Linked DNA regions of Homo sapiens: region 1 is linked to region 2. A link means that fine-mapping ties the variant in region 2 to the expression of a gene that starts in the linked region. Tissue or cell type: whole blood. Region 2 holds a variant in brackets; the other region holds the start of a gene. All regions are shown on one strand. Distances are between the middles of the regions.

The links. PIP is the estimated chance that this variant, and not a neighbour inherited with it, causes the effect.
Region 1: RAMP3 starts here. The variant in region 2 is fine-mapped to the expression of RAMP3 in whole blood (TOPMed, PIP above 0.99).

What each region holds. Positions count from the first base shown.
Region 1 is chr7:45,154,065-45,164,055 of GRCh38, forward strand. RAMP3 (receptor activity modifying protein 3) reads left to right here and starts at 3,727. Exons shown (of 3, transcript NM_005856.3): 1 at 3,727-3,822. The coding sequence starts at 3,765.
Region 2 is chr7:45,247,219-45,257,209 of GRCh38, forward strand. No RefSeq gene overlaps it. Among named protein-coding and RNA genes, the nearest start is that of RAMP3, 94 kb to the left of the region's middle. The variant A/C (reference allele first, on the strand shown) is at 4,143.

The DNA.
Region 1 (9,991 bases), 93 kb before region 2:
GGCTGAGGTGGGCGCATCACCTGAGGTCAGGAGTTCGAGACCAGCCTGGCAAACATGGTGAAACCCCATCTCTACCAAAAATACAAAATTTAGCTGGGCGTGGTGGGAGGGCCTGTAATCCCAGCTACTTGTGAGGCTGAGGCAGGAGAATCGCTTGAATCCAGGAGGTGGAGGTTGCAGTGAGCCGGGATGGCACCATTGCACTCCTGAGTGACAAGAGCAAAACTATGTCTCAAAAAAAAAAAAAAGGAAATTCATCTCAGCCTCCACAGTATCTGAGACTACAGGCGCACCTCACCACACACGGCTAATTTTTGTATTTTTTTTGTAGAGGCGGGGTTTCACCATGTTGCCCAGGCTGGTCTAGAACTCCTAAGCTCAAGCAGTTAGCCCACCTCGGCATCTCAAAGTGCTGGGATTACAGGCATAAGTCACCACACCCATCCTAAAATGCTTGATTTGACGTTAAGTATTTTTTATTGCAATTAAACAAATGAGCAAACAAACGCAACAGGAGATGGAAGGCTGTGTCTTGATCCGTGGGAAGGTGGAAAACAGCTGAGGGTCAGAGGCACCCCTTCCTGGAATCTCCTTCATCACCCTTCTTTGAAGACCGGTCCTCTGTGTCCCTGGAGAGGGGTCACCGAGGCGTTGCTGCTGCCTCAGGGACAGAGGCGTAGTCTCATCGACAATGATACCGTTATTTCAGTGTCTGTCCAGCAGGGGGAGCCAGGTGCCCGGGAATGGCTTCCCTTGGCTCCTTCTCAACCCCCACCCTCCTGAAGTCTAGCCCCAGAGCAAGCAGAACCAGATCCCAAACCTCACCAGGTTCTGTGCTCAGGCCCTTGCCTGGACACGTGGACTCCGGGCAGAAGCATTACTTCCAGGGAGAGTGAAGGCCCAGCGGCCATGTGTTCCCCTGATCTGGTAGAAACACCAGGATGTTATTTCTTCCTCTTAGAAGAGGCCACTTGAGTGTCAAGAAAATGTTCTCTTACAACTATTTAAGAATAAGAGGAATCACAGAATAAATATCATGATAATGGTGAATCAGGGCTTGATCAGGAGAGAGACTACACCGCAACCTGAATGGGGAAGTTTGGTGTAAAGAATTATGAACCGGCCGGGCGCGGTGGCTCACGCCTGTAATCCCAGCACTGTGGGAGGTCGAGGCAGGAGGATCACCTGAGGTCGGGAGTTCGCGACCAGCCTGACCAACATGGAGAAACCCCGTCTCTACTAAAAATACAAAAATTAGCCGGGCATGGTAGCACAAGCCTGTAATCCCAGCTACTCGGGAGGCTGAGGCAAGATAATTTCTTGAGCCCCGGAGGCAGAGGTTGCAGTGAGCCAAGATCATGCCATTGCACTCCAGCCTGGGCAATAACAATGAAACTCCTTCTAAAAAAAATATAAATAAATAAATAAATAAATAAATAAAATAAATAAATAATTATGAACGCTAAGAGGGGATTCCTGAGAGGACCCCAGTGCACACAGGATCGCAGACACAGGGAATGGTGCCGGGGCCAGCACCCACCGAGGGACAAGCAGGGAGACAGGTGCTGTCCAGGGCACACCCCATGGTCAATCTCATTTATGGCGGCAGCCTTTCCACACTCAGGGTCGGGGGGATGCACCGTGGAAGGGGCAGGTCCCTCTCTCCCATGGCTCAGCTCCTCACAGCCTGTGTTAAACCCACCTGCCCTGCAGAGGCCATGGGCACCACTGGGCACAGAGAGGAGAAGTGAGGGCCCTGCCTTAGAGGGACCTAGGGGCAGTAGACACAACTCCCTGGGAGTTTGTTGGGGCATGGTTGGTTCCATGGAGGAGAGGTGTTGGAACCCAACTCTGTAGAATGGCCAGGGCTTCCCCACTGCAGAGCCAGGGTGGGGAGTCCAGGAAAGGGAGCATTGCTCCCTGGTGCAGGCTTGGGGGAACTGGCTGCCCCCCTCCCACCTGACAACCCCATCCTACTGTTCCAGCCTGCAAGCTATGTGCAACCGCCTTTGGGGCTGTGGGACCGAGTGGAGACTAAGACTCTCCTGGAGAGAGCTGTAGGGCCGAGTCTGTGTGGGATGTGGGTGGACACCTGGGCCTGGACCATCCTCTTGGTTTGTCTTGGCTGGTGTAGGGTGTGCGTGTGTGTAAGCCAGCCCCCTGCTGCCCTGGTCAGCTTGTTTTATGACCCCTGGCCTGTGGGCAGAAGGCCTGGCTGTGGGCACCATCAGTCTCACTAGAGGCTCTGTGGCCACCCCTACACCTGCTGCCCACCCCTCAGGCAGAAGGCAGGACAAATGATCAATTTTAATTAGTTTTGACTCCTTTGAATTAATTCTGGCTGTAATCAGAATTTCTTCAGTAAAAAAGCACAGAAAGTTCTTCTCCCGAATAAGGGTCTTGTTAAATAAAGTGGGTCTTTCTAAGCCAGGAGAAGTTCAGCTCAGCTCCTGGGAAGGTAGCAGTACCTACGGCTCAGAGGAGTGGAGGGCCCATCCATGTAGGAGCCTGGGCCTGTGCCCCAACCTCAGACCAGCATGTGCCCCCAGGGGTGGTGGGTGGGCCCTGGAGGGCAGAGAGGTGCCTCTAGCTGGCTCTCGGAAGTCCTGACCAGTGACAATTCTTAAGACACCATTAAGTGTCCACTGGAGCCAGGGCCTGTGCTAGGGGCTGAGGGTGACAGAGGTGACCCATCTGGCCAAGTGACCTGTGGCTGGAGAAACTGAGGCCCTCCTTCGCCTCAGGGACCCTGACACTCTTCAAGGCCAGGTCTTTGGTGGTGCCAGATACTCTCCTGTCCCTTGGTTTGCTTGTGGCTTGGTTCTTGGTGTGTGATACGTCTCTGTGTGTGTAGTTGCCACACCCTCCAGTCTCTCTCATACACACTGTTTCCCAAGCATACACTCACAAACACACCTTGTCTCAGACTCAAACACACACATGCCACACACACACCATACATCACACACTCCATGCACACACATGCATCTACACACACCCCACATGCACATCACACACACGTACTCCATGAACAACACACACACGCACACACACAGACGCACACACACACACCCCCCAACCTCTTTTATGCACTTTCCTGACCTTTGGAGACCTGGCTCCTAGATGTATCTCTGCTCAAAGTTCCCCTCCCTGCCTGGGGGCAGCTCTGGACTCTGGTCTACTTTCGGCCAGGGCACACCTAGCCCACTCCCAGGTCCACCTTCCTCCAGTCTACCCCCAGACTCCTCTAGGCCATCATCAGCCAGCGCTTCATCCTCACCTCAGCTCCCTCCCCGGTCTACCCCCACCCTCTGCCCCTGAGCCTGGACGGAAGTTCCCCAAGTCTCTCCAGCCTGCATCCCAGCCCACCGTCAGCCGGCCCCCACGCTCACCCCAGCTCACCTCCCAGTCTGCCCCTACAATCTGCTCCCAAAAAGCTCCTTTGCAGCTCAGCACCCCAGCCCCGCCCTCAGAGCCCATCAGCCGGCACCCCACCTTACCCCAGCTTGTCCCCAGCTCGAAACCCTGCCCTCGCCCCCCTCTCACCCCGCTGAGACTCCAGCCGCCCCCATCCCTCCCACCCGGCGCGCCTGCAGGGACTGCACCCCACATCTGGAGGCAACGGGGCACGGCCGCAGGCGTGGTCTGGGGGTGCGGCCTGAGGGCGGACCCCCTGAGGCCCCGCCCCACCCCAACCCCAACCGGGCGTCCCCCAGCCGCGCCCCCAGCGGGACCGAGCGTGACCCAGCTGCGGCCGGCCAGCCATGGAGACTGGAGCGCTGCGGCGCCCGCAACTTCTCCCGTTGCTGCTGCTGCTCTGCGGTAAGGGGGCGACGGCCCGCACCGGGGGCGCCCCCACTCCTCGGGGTTCACCGGACCCGGGTGGACCCGCGCCTTCCCGCACCTGCGCCGCGGTCCTTCCCTTGCCCCGGAGCTCGGGAGGGGCGCACAGTGACCCTGGCGGGATTCCCAGGCTCTGCGGGAGGGTTCCACCCGGGAGAAGCTGAAGGCGAAGGACTCTGGCGGGCAAGGGAGGCACAGGGCCCCCTCCGGGGTCTTCTGACGGCAGGGTCCGGCAGCCCCCGGTCCTTCTAGTTGTGATGTCCCCCCACGCCCCGGTTCTGGGGTCGCCTCAGGGTGGGCGAGAAGAGGTGGACCAGGTCTGGCTCTTTACCCCTTATCCCCCAGGGTGGGCTGTCTGTAAGGTAGTGAGCTCTCTGTCCTGGCATTGAGTGCCTGCCCACCACTCACAGGGGCGTGGGCGGGTGGACTCCGGACTGGGTAGCTGGTCCTCCCAGGGCCCCTCAGTGTGTGGACGCCTGTGTGTGTCCTGGAACTGGCTGAGAGGGGAAGCGGGGCGACTCTCTGAGCCATCCTCTCCTAATGCCTTCTTCGGCAAGAAATCAGGACTCTAGGAAGAACCATTGCTCACAAAATGGAAATAGATTAAACTAAAAGCTTGTTTTGAAGTACCTTGCTAAAGAAATTATCCAAGAAAAAGTAAGAGAGAGAGAGAGAGAGAGAATGTGTGTAAAGGCTGTTGGGGAAGAGTGCTTGCTGAGGGCTGGGGTCCACTGAGTGGTGACTGAGCCTGGCCAGTTCTGGGGGGGACATTGGTGATGGAGGGCCCTGGCCTGGTGGTCCCCAGTTTCCCTGGCTGTAAGATGCAGAGTTGGGCCTGTTTTGATGATTTGGGATTTGGTACGGGAGGTGGGAAAAGGGTGGACCAAACTCAGTGGTCATTTTCCTTCCATTGAAGAGGTCTTGGTGTGCAGAACTTGTGTGGCTTCATTTGGTGTTCCAGGGCTGGAGCCTAGGATGTGGTGGATTTTGTGTTGAAGTGCAAAGGTGGATGGCAGCTTCTGAAATCAGGAGCATGCTGATTTGGGATTTCAGCAAACTTCCAGTGAGCGCCCCTTAGGTGGAGATCTTGGTCGCTATAGTGGAAGGAAGGTCCTCTCAATTCATTCTGGGAGAAGCTGAGGCTTTCCTGATCATCTCCAGTATCAAATTGAGAAGGACCACAGGCTTCCGCCTGCACAGAATCCCCCCTTAATAATCCTGTCTCTCGTGGACCCAGTTCCTGAGGGCCACTTCTTTGTCCTGTTGTGTTGGTCCTGACTGTCCCCCTCCAATGGGACATGGGTTCACGCTCCCTGGCCAGAATAGGGACCAGGTCCAGCTTCTCAGCAGACCCTCCCAGTGTTCGACTGGCCAGAGTGAGATTCAGGGAGAGGTAAAACTTGCTCATGGTCCCAGGCCGATGTGTCAGAGGTATCCGGGACTGGAACCCACATCTGCCCTGGATGCTGCTGTGTCTGGAAGGAAGGAGCTGGGTGGGTTCCTCTTGACTGAGGACTAGCTCAGGAGGACCAGCAGGGAGGGTGCAGGCCTCTGGGGCTTCTTTGAGAATTCCAGACCTTTTTCCAGAAAGCATTTGATGCTGTGTGGGGCTGTGGGGATGCGAAGTCCAGCAGTTGTCTACTCAGCAGGACACTTTGCTGTGGTGCCCAGCTCTTGACTGGACTCTTCTGGTCTGGGTGAAAATCCTGATCATGATCCCAAGATTATAAAGCACTCACTGGCCTCAGTTTCCGAGCTGCAATGTAGATGTAATAATAGCAATCTGTAAAGGGCTGCTGAGACCGTCAGTTTGATTCCATTCAGTTTAGTCCCTATCACCTTGTGTTGGGCATGGGATTGTGGGGTGGAAGGGTTCATGCTTAAACAAGGGGAGGTATGGGAAGGCACCCACCAGTGACTGCACTGGGCCTCATGAGGCTCACTCACAGCACCCAAAGATGGAGCACCATAGTGTGTGTGCCTGTGTGTGCAAGCGTATGAACATGGTACCATCGTTTTTATCATTAAATGATGTCCTGCTGCCATGTTACCTGTGGTCATATTGATTCTACTGAATCAAGTGGGCCCAAGGGCCATGGTTGGATAGCAGTAACTCTGGTGAATTAAAGACTTGGAGGTGGCCGGCCGGGTGCGGTGGCTCACGCCTGTAATCCCAGCACTTTGGGAGGCCAAGGCGGGCAGATCTCGAGGTCAGGAGATCGAGACCATCCTGGCCAACATGGTGAAACTCCGTCTCTACTAAAAATACAAAATATTAGCCGGGTGTGGTGGTGCATACCTGTAGTCTCAGCTACTCAGGAGGCTGAGGCAGAGGAATCGCTTGAACCTGGAAGGCGGAGATTGCAGTGAGCCGAGATCATGCTATTGCACTCCAGCCTGGTGACAAAGCGAGACTCTGCCTCAAAAAAAAAAAAAAAAAAAAAAAAAAAAAAAAAAAAAAAAAGACTTGAAGGTGGTGATTGGCCAAGAAGAGGCCCATAGATTTTTGGCACTGGAGGTTCCTTGGAGGTTATCTGACCTCCATGCTCTTACCTATTCTTCATAAGGAAACAGAAATCTGGAGGTTAGAGAGGAAGTTGCCCAACCACAGAGACCAGGGGCAGAACCGCCCAGAATCCACAGCCTCCCAAGGTCGACTGACCGTGGCCCATGGCAGCCACTTGCCAGTCTCGTCGATGCTCTTTCTGTCAAGGAGGGGGAGAGCGCCTGTGTTTCATTTCCAAATGACTAGCCACAAAAGCCCTTTCTGGCGGAAATGCATCTGTTTGGCTGTTTATCATCTCTCAGTGGCGTCTGGAAGTCCCTGAGACAAAAGAAACACAGGCCGGCATGTTCTTTGTTTCCCAATGAAACCAACCAAAATGGATTTCTATTTTGATTCAGTTCCTGCGACCTTTACTAATGCAGCCAGTAGCTTGATTGGCAATGGCCCTCTTTTGTGGTGTTGCCAGGAATCTGTCTTTACACCATTGTTCTAACATTGGGTGGGTTGTCAGGTTTTGCTGGGAGCCCCTCAAGCCTCATGTGCACTAGAAATGAGCTCCCTGGGGAGGGCACTTGGTTTCTCAGGGTGCCTGCCTTGTGCAGGCCCAGGGCTGGTGCTGTCACAGGCATCCTCATAGCACCTCCGTGGGTAGAGGAGTTATCCCAGAACACCTGCCTGAGGATGGCATGTGGTCCTCAAAGGCACATTTACAATCTGCCTGAGCCAGGTCCTTGCGATGGGGCATGTGAAGATTATGGAGTATGTAGAGATTTGGGGCATGCAGAGATTCAGGGAGGGGCATGTTGTCAGGGACCCCTCCTTCTCTTTTTAGATAGCTGTGCGACCTGGGTGGGTATTTGTAGAGCCGTGGGGGAGGGGCTGGGCAATGCCCTGGCACTGGGGGTGGTGGGGAATTGATGCTGTCTTTGCCTGGCTCAGTGAGGGAGATCAGGGGCTCAGGGAGAATAATAGTTGCCTGAGGGTAATGAATACTTATCAGGACCTTGTCCCTGAGCTGTGTTTCAGAGCATCATAGTTAATGTGAAAATGTGGCAGACACAGGCCCTGTGTAGGGAGGTGGGCTGTAGGAACAGCCATGACTTGGGCTGGCTGCGGCAAATACCTCCAGGAAAGGGCTGGGGAGGAGAAGGCAGTGGTTCAGATTCATTCTGACTTCCAAGAAGAGGAGGAAGGAAGGAGAGGAGAGGAAACAGGGGAGGGGGAGGAGGGTAAAGAAGGACAGGGGAAGGAGGAAGAGAGGAAGAAGGGGAAGGAGGGGGAGGCAGAGGAGGAAGAAGAACTGGGCTGGGTCTCGGTGGCCTGATAGGTGACAGTCAGAGTAGGCTGAGGGGGGACCAGGCCAAGTGGTCCAGGTCTAGGGGTTCAGATTCAGACCTAGGGGTCCAGGTGGACCAGGCTGCAGGTGTGGGCACTGGCCAGGAGGGACAGGGTGGGGCTAGCCTGGCTCGTGCCCATTGGGATGGTGGGCGGAGCTCAGGAGACCCACCCAAGGGTGCTGAGAGAATCTGTTAGGGAGTGACGCCAGACCCAGGGGTGAGGACAGGAGCTGGATGTGGAGAGCAGCTAGGCGAACCTTCAGAGTCCAAGGCAGGGGCAGCTTTAGGGTGAAGGTGCACAGGCCGCCTTAGTCCTCGTGTGACTCCACGTGGTCCCTGGGGCTTGCACCCCTTGGTCACTTATGCCAGGGCTGTCTTTTCACCTGCAGGCAGGTGCAGTTGAGCAGGGTGGCAGAGGGAGGCCTTGGGAAAGTCGCTTTCTTTTGGGCCTCCATCGTCCCATCTCTAAACTGAGGGAGGTGGTGAAGGAGGCATGATGTTTTTCAGGCCCTTCCCAGGATCAATGCCGACCTGTACTCCAGAATCTGTTGCAGAGCCCAGGCTTGACATGGAGCTTGGAAGTGCCCACTGGGAGAGAAGGAAAGGAAGGTGGGGATCGGGGACCAGGGCTAAGTGGGGCCACTCCAGCCAGGAGCCCTCAGGGCAAGGAGGTGAGCCTTGGATGCAGCCCTGCTTGGCAGACCAAGGGTGGGAATTGGAGTGAGGGTGTCAGTGTGAGGCAATGGTGACATGCCACCTGGAGACAGCTCTGTGGGCAGGTGGCCTGGCTTTGAACCTTGACTCCCCTGCCTTGTCTAAGTGAGGAAGCAGCTGACCCACCCTGCCACAGGGTTTCAGTCTTTAAGTACCTGCCCTGTCTGGCTGTTGTAGGGCTTGGCGGGTTGGGCCACACTTAGAACAGGGCATTCAGGGAGCACTGGTCAGTACTGAGGGGGGTGGAGAGCCTGGCTGAAGGGAAAGAGAAATGGGGCAAGGGTCTGCCAGGTAGGTGCCACTGGTTCTGTTTCTGAATGGGGACATTGAGGCTCAGAGGGGCAAGTGAGTGAGTGTCAGGGTCAGGGGCAGAGCCGAGGTGAGCACCTAGAGCCTTCTGGCTCCTGCTTGCTGCTCTTCCATCCCCCATGCCCTTACTCCTTGGAGTGTGGTCCTCGGACCTGCAGAAGGGGCTTGCCTGGAGCTTGCAGAGATGAGTGCTTTGGCCTCCAAGCCTGCTGGACTGGAATCTACATTGCTTGAGGTCTTCAGGTGATGGCCTGCACATCTGAGTGGAGACACATTGCTTTCCATCTCTCAGTCTCAGCCTTGACCCCATGTCTGAATCACTTGGAGGTTTTAACAAACATGAATTATTGGTTTCACACCCCAGAGGCTCCCATGCAATAGGCCTGGGCTGTGGCCTGGGTGAGCCTATTGTGCAGTTGACTCTGCTGGGTCTGTCCTATCTCTGGTGGCTGCCCTGAAAGATGACAGTGCCCAGAGGAACTAGGGATAGAGCCCCCAAGCCTCAGGGCTTTCTGGGTGGGTTCATGAATGGTGGTCCCTACCAGCCTTATAGAAGAATGGCTTCACTTTTGAGTCTCTTATTACTTTTTGGTTCCTTCAAAGCACTTCAGGGTCTAGAGCTGTGCTACAAGAGAACCTGGGGTCAGCAGCTTGGGATACACAGAAGTGGGAGCTGCTGGTGTCCAGGAAGGAGGCTGTGGTAATGGGGGACAGTCTGATTGTGGAGGAAGAGGGGCAGGTGCTGCCAGCAGCCAGAGGGTCGTGGAGCAGCAGCTCATGGGTGGGACAAGCTGGAGGCTGGGGTCAGCAGTGGTGGGAATAGGAAGTTGGGGCCCGATGGAAGCTAACCTTGACAGAGATTTTGTAGGTGCACAATTATTAACCAATGGAAACACACAGAATCAGAATCACTCTTTTTTACAGATGGGGAGACAAAGGACCAGAAAGGTGAAGGGCCCTGCTTGGAGTCACACAGCAAATCAGGAACTAAACAGGATGAGGTCTCTGTCTTCTGGCTCCGTGCCAGTGGGGCATCTGGAGGGTGGCACGGTCAAGCTTCAGAAGGACACGGGCCTCCATTCCTGCAGAGATGGTATGGCTTCTCTTGAAGGGACGCCAGCTTCAGTCCTGGCTGATGCTTGCCCAGGATTCCATGATGTGAAGGTTCAGAGGGCCTATTTGGGTTAAGTGGGAGAGTACTGTGGCTGAAAACCCACTTCTGCCTTTCTATTAGACTTTAAATAAACTCTGAAGACCTGTACATCCTGCTCCAACCTTGCCC
Region 2 (9,991 bases):
GGCAACTATGTTTAAAGAGTTAAAGGAAAGTATGGCAACTACGTCTCACTAAATAATGAATATCAGTACAAAATAGAAATAATAGAAAAGAGCTAAATAGAAATTCTGGAGTTGTAAAATATAGTAACTTCAGTAAAAAAATTAAAACAAATTTGAGTTGGCAGAAGAAAGAATTAGTGCATTTGAAGAAAGACCACTAGAGATTATCTAGTCCAAGGAACAGAAAGAAAAAAGAATGAAGGAAAATGAACAGTCTCAGAGATCTATGGGTCACCATCAAGTATACCAACATAATGGTAGTTTCAGACGGAGAGGTGAAGGAGAGAGGAAGAAAAAAACTATTTGAAGAAATAATGGCTGAAAATTTTCCTATTTTGATGAGAAACATATTTACTCACCCAAAAAGTTCATAAAAGAAGTTCTATGTAGAACAAACAAAAAGAGATCTAAATGTAAACATATCATAGTCAAACTGAAGAAAGTCAAAGAGAAAATCTCGGCTGGGTGGAGTGGCTCACACCTGTAATCCTAGTACTTTGGGAGGCCGAGGCAAGCGGATCACCTGAGGTCAGGAGTTCAAGACCAGTCTGGCCAACATGATGAAATCCCATCTCTACTAAAAATACAAAAATTAGCTGGGTATGGTGGCGTGCACCTGTAATCTCGGCTACCTGGGAGGCTGAGGCATGAGAATTGCTTGAACCCAGGAGGCGGGTGTTGCAGTGAGCCAAGACTGAACCACTGTACTCCAGCCTGGGCGACAGAGCATGTTAAAAAAAAAGAAAAAAAAAAAAAAGACAGAGAGAGAGAAAATCTTGAAAACAGCAAGAGAAAAATGATTTATCAATTAGATTAACATTTGACTTCTCATCAGAAACCATGAGAGTCAGAGGACAGTGAAATGACATATTCAAAATGTTGAAAGTGTTGAAAGAAAGACTGTCAACTCAAAATTCTATATCCAATCAAATTATTTTTGAAAAGTGAAGGAGAAATAAAGACATTTTCAGATAAACAAAGACTGAGATAATTCATTGTTGGGGACATGACTTATAAGAAATATAATGAGAGTCTTTCAGATTGAAAAGAGAGGACACTAGACTAGCAACTCAGATCCACATGAAGAAATAAACCAGCAAAGGTTATTGTACAGGTAAAAGATAAAAGACAAAAGATAGTATAAAGATATATTTTTAAACTCTTTTCTTCCCCTAACTGATTTTAAATGACAACTGAAAAAAACAATTGCAAAATGGTGTTATAAGCTTTTAGTGTATAAAGTTGTAATTTATATGACAATTATAGCACAAAGGAGTGGGGAGAGAAGATACTATACTGAAGTCAAGTTTCTCTATACTATTGCAATAAAGTTAAGATTAAGTTAAAATATGTAATGTAATCCTCAAAGCTAGTGCCAAGAAAATGACTTAAATATTTAGTAAAGATAACAAAGGAAAATTTAAGAAATATTAGAAAAGAATAAAAATCCCAAATCAACAACCTAGGATTTTATTCAAGAATCCTAAAAATAAGAGAAAACTAAATAATTAAGATTAGAACTGAAACCAATGACATAGACATAGAAAAAATATGGAGAAAATCAGTAAATCCAAAAGTTGGTTTTTTGAGAAGATCAACAAAATTGGCTAACCTTTTTATTATTGAAAAAGAGGAAGAGGAGACACAGATCATCAAAATTAATAATGAAAAAGTGGTATTACTATTGATCTTTCAGAAAGTAGAGGATTAAAAGGGAATACTAAAAATAACTTTATGCCAATAAATTCAACAACATAGATGAAATGGATGAATTACTAGACAGACACATATTACTAAAACTGACTCAAGGAGAAATTAAAAATCTGAATAGAACTATGAGAAGTAAAAATATTTAATTAGTAACTTAAATTAGTAATTTATAAACTTCTCACAGAAAAAGCCCAGGCCCATATGGCTTCATTGGTAAGTTCTACTAAACACTTAAAGAAGAATTGACAACAATTCTTCACAAACTAGTCTAGAAAATAGAAAAAAGAGTAACAGTTCCCAACTGACTGTATGAGGCCCTGATACAAAAGTCAGTCAAACATACCACAACAACAACAACAAAAAAACGAAACTACAAACCCACATCTCTTACGAATATAGATGCAAAAATTATCAACGAAATACTAGCAAACTAAATCCAGCAAAATCTAAAAATGGTTAGACACTATGACCAAGAGGGATTTATCCTAGGACTACAAAGTCGATTTAACATTCAAAAAATCAACTAATATTAATAGAAGAAAGGACAAATGCCACATGGTCACTTCAATAGATGCAGAAAAAGTATTTGACAAAATCCAACGTCCATTCATGACAAAATACTCTCCATAAACTTGGAAAAGAAGGGAATTTCCTCAGCCTGATAGAAGTCATCTACAAAAAAACCTAAACTCATAGCAGGCGAAGATGTGTACACTTGCCACTTCTTTTCAAAACTTGCTGGAGGTTCTAGCCAGATCAATCAGGCAAAAAAAAAAAGAAAAGAAATGAAAGGTATCTACATTTGAAAGCAAGAAGTAAAACTGACTGTGTTTGCAGAAGACATAATCTTGCATGTAGAAAATCCTAAAGAATATACACACACACAAATATACACACATACAGGCTGTTAGAACTAATGATCAAGTATAACAAGGATGTACTATACAAGATCAGTTTATAAAAATCAATTGTATTTTGCCTGAACCCAGGAGGTGGAGGTTGCAGTGAGCCAAAATGGCACCACCGCACTCCAGCCTGGTGACAGAGTGAGACTCCATCTCAAAAGAAAAAAAAAAAAACCAATTGTATTTTTATTTACAAATAACCTGAAAATGAAAGTAAGAATACAATACCTCTTACAATAGCATCAAAAAGAATAACATAAGTAAGAATAAATTTATCAAAAGAAGTACAAAAATTGTATACTGAAAATTATGAAACATTATTGAAGTTGCCAGCCAAGATAAACTTAGATTCTTTCATTACTGTATACCAAAATAACTCAAAATGTATCATAGACTTTAAGGGTTAATAAAATAAAAATCTTGAAGAAAACCTAAGAGAAAATCTTTGAGACCTTGGGTTAGGCAAAGATATCTTAGATATAACACCAAAAGCACAGTTTGTAAAGGAACAAAAACTATAAATTGGACTTCGTCTTAACTTTTTTGCTTCAAAAGAAATCATTAAGGAAAGGAAAAGATAAGAACATATTTGGAAAAATACTTGAATAATAAATGCTGTTCAAAAGAAGTTCAAATCAAAAAGTTGTTCAGAAGAGAAGGAAAGCTAATGTGATAGTTCAATGAGTCGTGGAAGAAAAAGCTTTGAAGTTAGAAATATGCATTCACATTTCAGCTGAGCCATTTCCTACTTTTTTGCTTTGGGACACAATTTTCTGAGCCTGGGGATCATCAGGTCCACAGGATTGAAGGGTTGCTTGATGATTGTGGTTAGAGGTAAGCTCTTAACAAATGATGACTATTATTGTCGTAATAATACATGATATGGTCTTATTAAATAAGATAATGCATGTAAAGCACCTAGTAGTTCCTTGTGCATATTAAATATTCAAAAATGTTATCTATTATTAATCACTAAGTTATTATATCAGAATCCAAAAGGAAAGCTAAAGTATGATCATGCCCCATTTTAATTCTCTGAGTACTGTAAACCGAAAAATATATAAGAATTTCCAAGTTTTAACCAATGGAACACTTGTTTTAAAGCGATAGTCAGCTGGGCGTGATGGGAGGATTGCTTGAGCCCAGGAGTTCGAGACCAGCCTGGGCAAAATGGTGAGACCCCGTTTCTACAAAACATAAAATAATTAGCTGAGGCCAGGTGCAGTAGCTCACGCCTGTAATACCAGCAGTTTGGGAGGCCAAGGTGGGTGAATCCCTGGAGCTCAGGAGTTCAAGACCAGCCTGGGCAACATGATGAAACCCCGTTTCTACCAAAAATACAAAAAATTAGCCAGATGTGGTGGTGTGCACCTGTGATCCCAGCTACTTGGGAGGCTGAGGTGGGAGGATTGTTTGAACCTGGGAGGCAGAGGTTGCAGTGGGCCGAGATCGCACCACTGCACTCCAACCTGGGTAACAGAGTGAGAC[A/C]CTGTCTTAAAAAAAAAAAATTAGCTGGGCGTGATGGCACACACCTGTGGTCCCAGATACTTGGGAGGCTGAGGCAGGAGGATCACTTGGAGGAGGAGGTGAAGGCTACAGTGAGCTGTGTTGGCACCACTACACTCCAGCCTGAGTGACAGAGTGAGACTCTGCCTAAAATAATAATAATAACAAAGAAATAGTCAATCATTGTAAGTCAGTAATACGACAGGAGAAATTGGAAATCCTTCAGGGTGAAGATTTTATTTTAGTAACATGCTTTATTTTAGCACAAATGCATACCATGGACTTGCTGGGGATGGGTTGGGGAGGGATGATACAGTCGTTATAGAAAATCATATCATATTTTATTCATTATGCTTATTCATTCATCACATGGTCACTTTGAATTCTTACCATTCCTTATATTTCCAAGATCAAATTTGTTTCTTATTATGCTAATATCCCTATAAATTCCCAGTCTCCAGGAGGTCTGAGTTGGTTCTATTATGACTTATTCCACCTGCCAGGGGAGAAACTGTTCCTGAGAAATGAAGGGACTTTCCCAGGGCTTCAGGGTTAGAGAGTGGCTGGTTTTAGACAAACCGGTGCTACCCATACTGTTAACCCAACACAGGCATGCTTATAAGGAAAGGTTAAAAAAAGTAAAAGGAACTCGGCAAATCTTACCCCGCCTGTTTACCAAAAACATCACCTCTAGCATTACCAGTATTAGAGGCACCGCCTGCCCAGTGACATATGTTGAATGGCCGCGGCTTTCTACGTCTCTAGGGGCTGTGGAGAATACGTGAGAAGACCGCATCCCCTGCTCACATGCAGGGCATACCCTACAGTGGAGCTGTATGGGGCTGCCTGGAAGCCCCCTCACCCCAGGTAGAGAAGTAACTGACTCCATGACTCCTCCAGTAGCAGCCTCCAATGTGCAGGGAGGAGAGGCACTGAGCACCTGTGCCATCCCTGGCCTCTCATCCAGAACCCAGCCCCAGGGATGGGAGTGCTCCAGGCAATAAGTGGAGAAAAGCAGTTAAGTTAAACTCCCTGGGAGAGGCTGGGGCACCGTCTCAGCCAGCTGGGGCTCATATGATGGAATACAATAGCTGACGTGGCTTATAAACGGTAGAAATTTATTTCTCACAGTTCTGGAGGCTGAAAGCCCCAGGTCAGGGTGCCAGCACTGTGGGGTGACTGGTGGGGACCTGCTTCCAGCTGGGAGACGGTCACCTTCTTGTGATGTCCTCACATGATGGAGGGGACAAGGGAGCGCTCTCGGGCCTTTTTTATGAAGGTGCTGAGCCCATTCATGGTGGCTCTGCCCTCATGACCTAATTAGCTCCAAAGGTCTCACTTCCAAATATCATCACCTTGGGGGTTAGGATTCTAACATGAATTTTAGTCCATAATGGGCATTTCTCTCTCTCTCTCTCTGTCTCTGTCTCTCTGTCTCTCTCTGTCTCTGTGTCTCTCTGTCTCTCTCTCTCTCTCTCTCTCTGTGTGTGTGTGTGTGTGTGTGTGTGTGTATGTGAGAGAGAGAGAGAGATACAGACAAACAGAGATGGGGAGGGACCAGGAGATACTCCTTCCCATTGCATCACTGATCCATGCACAGTCTTGGCTCCTGTTTAGGGGAGCAGAAGTGTTTGGCTCTGCCCTCCTTTCAGAAAGGGGTAGTTGCCTGTTTACAGTAGGTAGGGCCATGCTGGGCTCCTCCCTCCCCTCCCTTGGCTGTGGTCCCTAGGTAACCAGGAGATACCCTGCAGGTCTAGCCCTGGCACCCTGTTTGCTCTTTGTTCTGCCACATCCCTTGAGGTCTGAGGGACACTGAGGTGAAGTTTGGTCCTGGAATGCACCTGACCACCTTCTCCTGCCCTTTCCTTGCACTTTGCTTCTCTGATCTCCTGGGAGAACTCTGCCATCTGCACTCTTTTTCTTAGTCTCTTTCTCTCTCCCTGTCTCCTTCTCTTCTCTCTCAATCTTGTTTTTCTTTCTCTTTCCTCTCAATCTCTCTGTCTGTCTCTCTCTTTCTTTGCCTGTCTCTGTCTCTCTGTGTCTGTCTCTGTGTCTTTCTTTGTGTCTTTTTCTCTCTGTCTCTCTGTGTCTCTCTCCATCTTTTCCAGGGCAGACATCCTGCCTTGCCATTTCCTGCATGTGTTTCTCTTGTCCATTCCAAGTTCAGAGCAGCCAGAAACAGCAGCCACACCCCAGTACTGATCTGAGCAGAGACCAGGCATGGACTATTGGGCAAATCCTTATGGCTCACATCATAGACTAGGTCAGGAAAATATCGTTCCTCTGTTTCTTTTCTGGGATTCTCAAGGACTGTGGATGGTAGGTGGTGCCACCTGATTGGAGTAAGAGAATGGGTGTGTAGGTACCCTCCCAGGAGGGTGAGCAGATCTTAAATGATAAATCCACTTGAACATTCTAATTTCCCTAAGTCTTTTTTTTTTGAGACGGAGTCTTGCTCTGTCAGCCAGGCTGGAGTGCAGTGGCACCATCTCGGCTCACTGCAGGCTCCGCCTCCCGAGTTCACGCCATTCTCCTGCCTCAGCTTCCAGTGTAGCTGGGACTACAGGTGCACGCCGCCACGCCCAGGTAATTTTTTTGTATTTTTAATAGAGACGGGGTTTCACCGTGTTAGCCACGATGGTCTCGATCTCCTGACCTCGTGATCCACCCGCCTTAGCCTCCCAAAGTCCTGGGATTACAGGCGTGAGCCACCGCGCCCGGTCTTCCCTAAGTCTTTGAATCCCTCCCTCTATAGCATGTCAAGGCAGGTCCATCATTTCAAGCTCACTTACTGTAGGCCACCTTCTGGCCCGTGTTGCAGTCAACCAACCAAACAGAACCTTTTCTAACTCCTTGAGCTGCAACATTAAATAGAGAATCACTGCTTAGGGAGCCCATATCAATAAATTCAGCCTGATCCAATCCAACTTTTTATGTTTCTTTCACTATTATCCAACACCTTTAATATCCATTTCTACGCATGCTTCCCAGACTTCTGTCTGTATAAATTAGAAAACCAAAGTATTTTTATTATTATTATTATTTTTTGAGTCTCACTGTCACCCAGGCTGGAGTGCAGTGGTGTGATCTCAGCTCACTGCAACCTCCGCCTCCCCAGTTCAAGTGGTTCTCATGCCTCAGCCTCCAGAGTAGCTGGGATTACAGGCACCCACTACCATGCCTGGCTAATTTTTGTATTTTTAGTAGAGACGGGGGTTTCACCATGTTGGCCAGGCTGGCCTCGAACTCCTGACCTCAAGTGATTCGCCCACCTTGGCCTCTCAAAGTGCTGGAATTACAGGTACAGGCATGAGCCACTATCCCTGGCTAAAGTGGTTCTTTGGGAGTGCAGCACACCTCCTCATGGGGCACACTTTGATCCTTACTGTTAAAGGCATGCTGGGACTCTGGTCTAGTTCTAGCTCTAGAAGCAAAAAGGGGTGTTGGGGTTGGGTCCCAAGGAGAATCAGCACTGTTTTGCATGGCAGCTGCCTCAGGGGAGGCCTTTGCAGCTTCCCCAGGCAATGCAGAGTTAATCCCCTCAGTCAGGGCTGGAGAGGCTGCTTCTACTGGCAAGGAAGACTTACCAGAACACAGAGGATCAATGTCTCCAGTTTCATCAGGGTCTTCCCACATGTCCCCATGAAGTGGCTACCTTGTCTGGGGTATATAACTGGGGTTCGTCATCTTGTGCCAGGGAAATTTAGGACACGAACACTCATGAGGAGTTTAGGAGTGGAGGCTTAATAGACAGAAGAAAGAGAAAGGAGAACAGCTCTCTCTATTGAAAGAAGGGACTTCCAAGCGGAAAGACTGGCTGGCAGGGGATGTGTGGGATTTTATAGTCTGGCTTGAGGAGAGGGTGTCTGATTCACGTAGGGCTCACAGATTGGTTCCATCAGGTATGACGTTTACATGGTGTGTGGGGAAGGCTGGTCACCGCACCCTAGTCTTACAAGGCAAATAAACTCTCCCCTTGGCCAGCAGCCATCTTGTCTGCTCCTTACTGTACAGGTGGCTGGCAAAGAAGGGAAGTTGGAGCCGCCATCTTGAACATGTCTAGTCCCTAGTTCCTGCCGGCATTCACCCGTGCAAGCTCCCAGCCTGCTTGTCTATGTCTGCAGCTCAACATTACAGGCTGCTCTTTGTTAGAAAATGATTTGGGGCTGCTTTTCATTAAAAACAAAATCTTACCGAGGACTCCCATGCCCTCACTATTTGCCTAAGTGATTTGTTCTTAGACGGCCACAGAGTCTCAGTAATGCCTCGGTAATAACTCCTGTATCACCCATACCAATTTTCAGTATCATTTTCTTCCCAATCAATTTCTCATTTTAAGAGTAGACATCCTGCTTGGTTGTCCAATTCAATTTGTGTTGTAATTCAGCCACTTGTAGGGTGTGATTCAATTATAGTTTTGGTTTTCAGCAATCTCAGCTCTGCAGCTACAGAAAATAAGGGTCTCTTTCAGGGCAGGGATAGAAGCTTTCAGGTCATTTATGCGGAGCTTGAGCTGAACATTTGATTTCCCGAGCTCATCCTTTTCTTTCCCCGCTTTGTCCAGTGACATCAGGAGCAGTCAACCAATCTCATTATACTTGTTAGTTTGATTAAAAATGTTTGATGGTACCATATGCATGACCACTCAGATCCTTGGCTCTTAATAAATTTTTGATTATGAGTATTCAACAGTGATGTTTTACCTAACTCTACTGTTACATCACACCATGGACTATCTGCATTCTCTCTACTATTAGGAGTAGTCATCAGTGCCTTTAAAGGTAATCAGCTTAGAGAGCCAATTCCAGAAACCCCAGAAGCAATTCAGAAAGCTCCTGAAGATTTAAGATCTTAAGGATTCTCAAAATGCTTAAGATTCTGTTCCTCTAGAACCATCCTTGGTATTAAAATCTGTAGTAGTCCATATAAACAGAATCAATAGGTGGTAGAAATCTGTCTGTATCTGTATTTCTCCAGCTCTATCTCGATGTCCATCTATCTATATTTATCTATAGACAGAGGAATTGGCTCATGTGATTATGGAGGCCAGCAAGTCTGACATCTGCCGGGCGGGCCAACAGGCTGAAGACTCAGGGAAGAGTTGATATTACAGTTTTGAGTCCAAAGTCAGTCTGGAGGCAGACTTCCCTCTTCCTCGGGGGACCTGAGTCTTTTTCTCTGAAGATGTTCAGCCGATTGGATGAGGCCCACTCACACTGTGGAGGGTCACCTGCGTTACTCAAAGTCTGCTGGTTTCAACGTTGATCTCATTTAAAAACATACCTTCACAGCAACATCTAGACCGGCATTTGACCAAACATCTGGGTGTCATGGTCTAGCCAACTTGACACATACCACAAGCATAATTTGAGATAGGAAATAAACATGGGAGAGGTTTGTTGAGGGGACAGGTGGCCACAGAGTCTCAGTAATGCCCTGTTCATACCCACTTCACAGCCCTCTGTGGATGGAAGCTAACTAGTCCCAGGAGGAGTCATGAAGAAGTGGTGGCTGGCTTTGGGAGTAGCCTGCCTCATGGCACTGCTAGTCTCTCCTGAGGGCCCAGCCGCCCCTGAGGACCCAAGCTTTAGGGTGAAGACTAGCAGATGAGCAGGACAGAGAACTGCTGATGTACAGAAACTGTTCTCTTGCTCTCTTCCTCCACGCCTGGGCCTGAGAACCTGGAGCTAGCTCTTTTTGGAGTTACAGAATTGGGAGAGAGGCCTTGGCTTCTCCTGCTATGACTGACTGATGACATGAGGAGCAGGGATGGTATGAGCCCTCAGACCTGGTTCCTTCCAGACCTGCCTGGGGCAAGTGGTGGCCCTGCT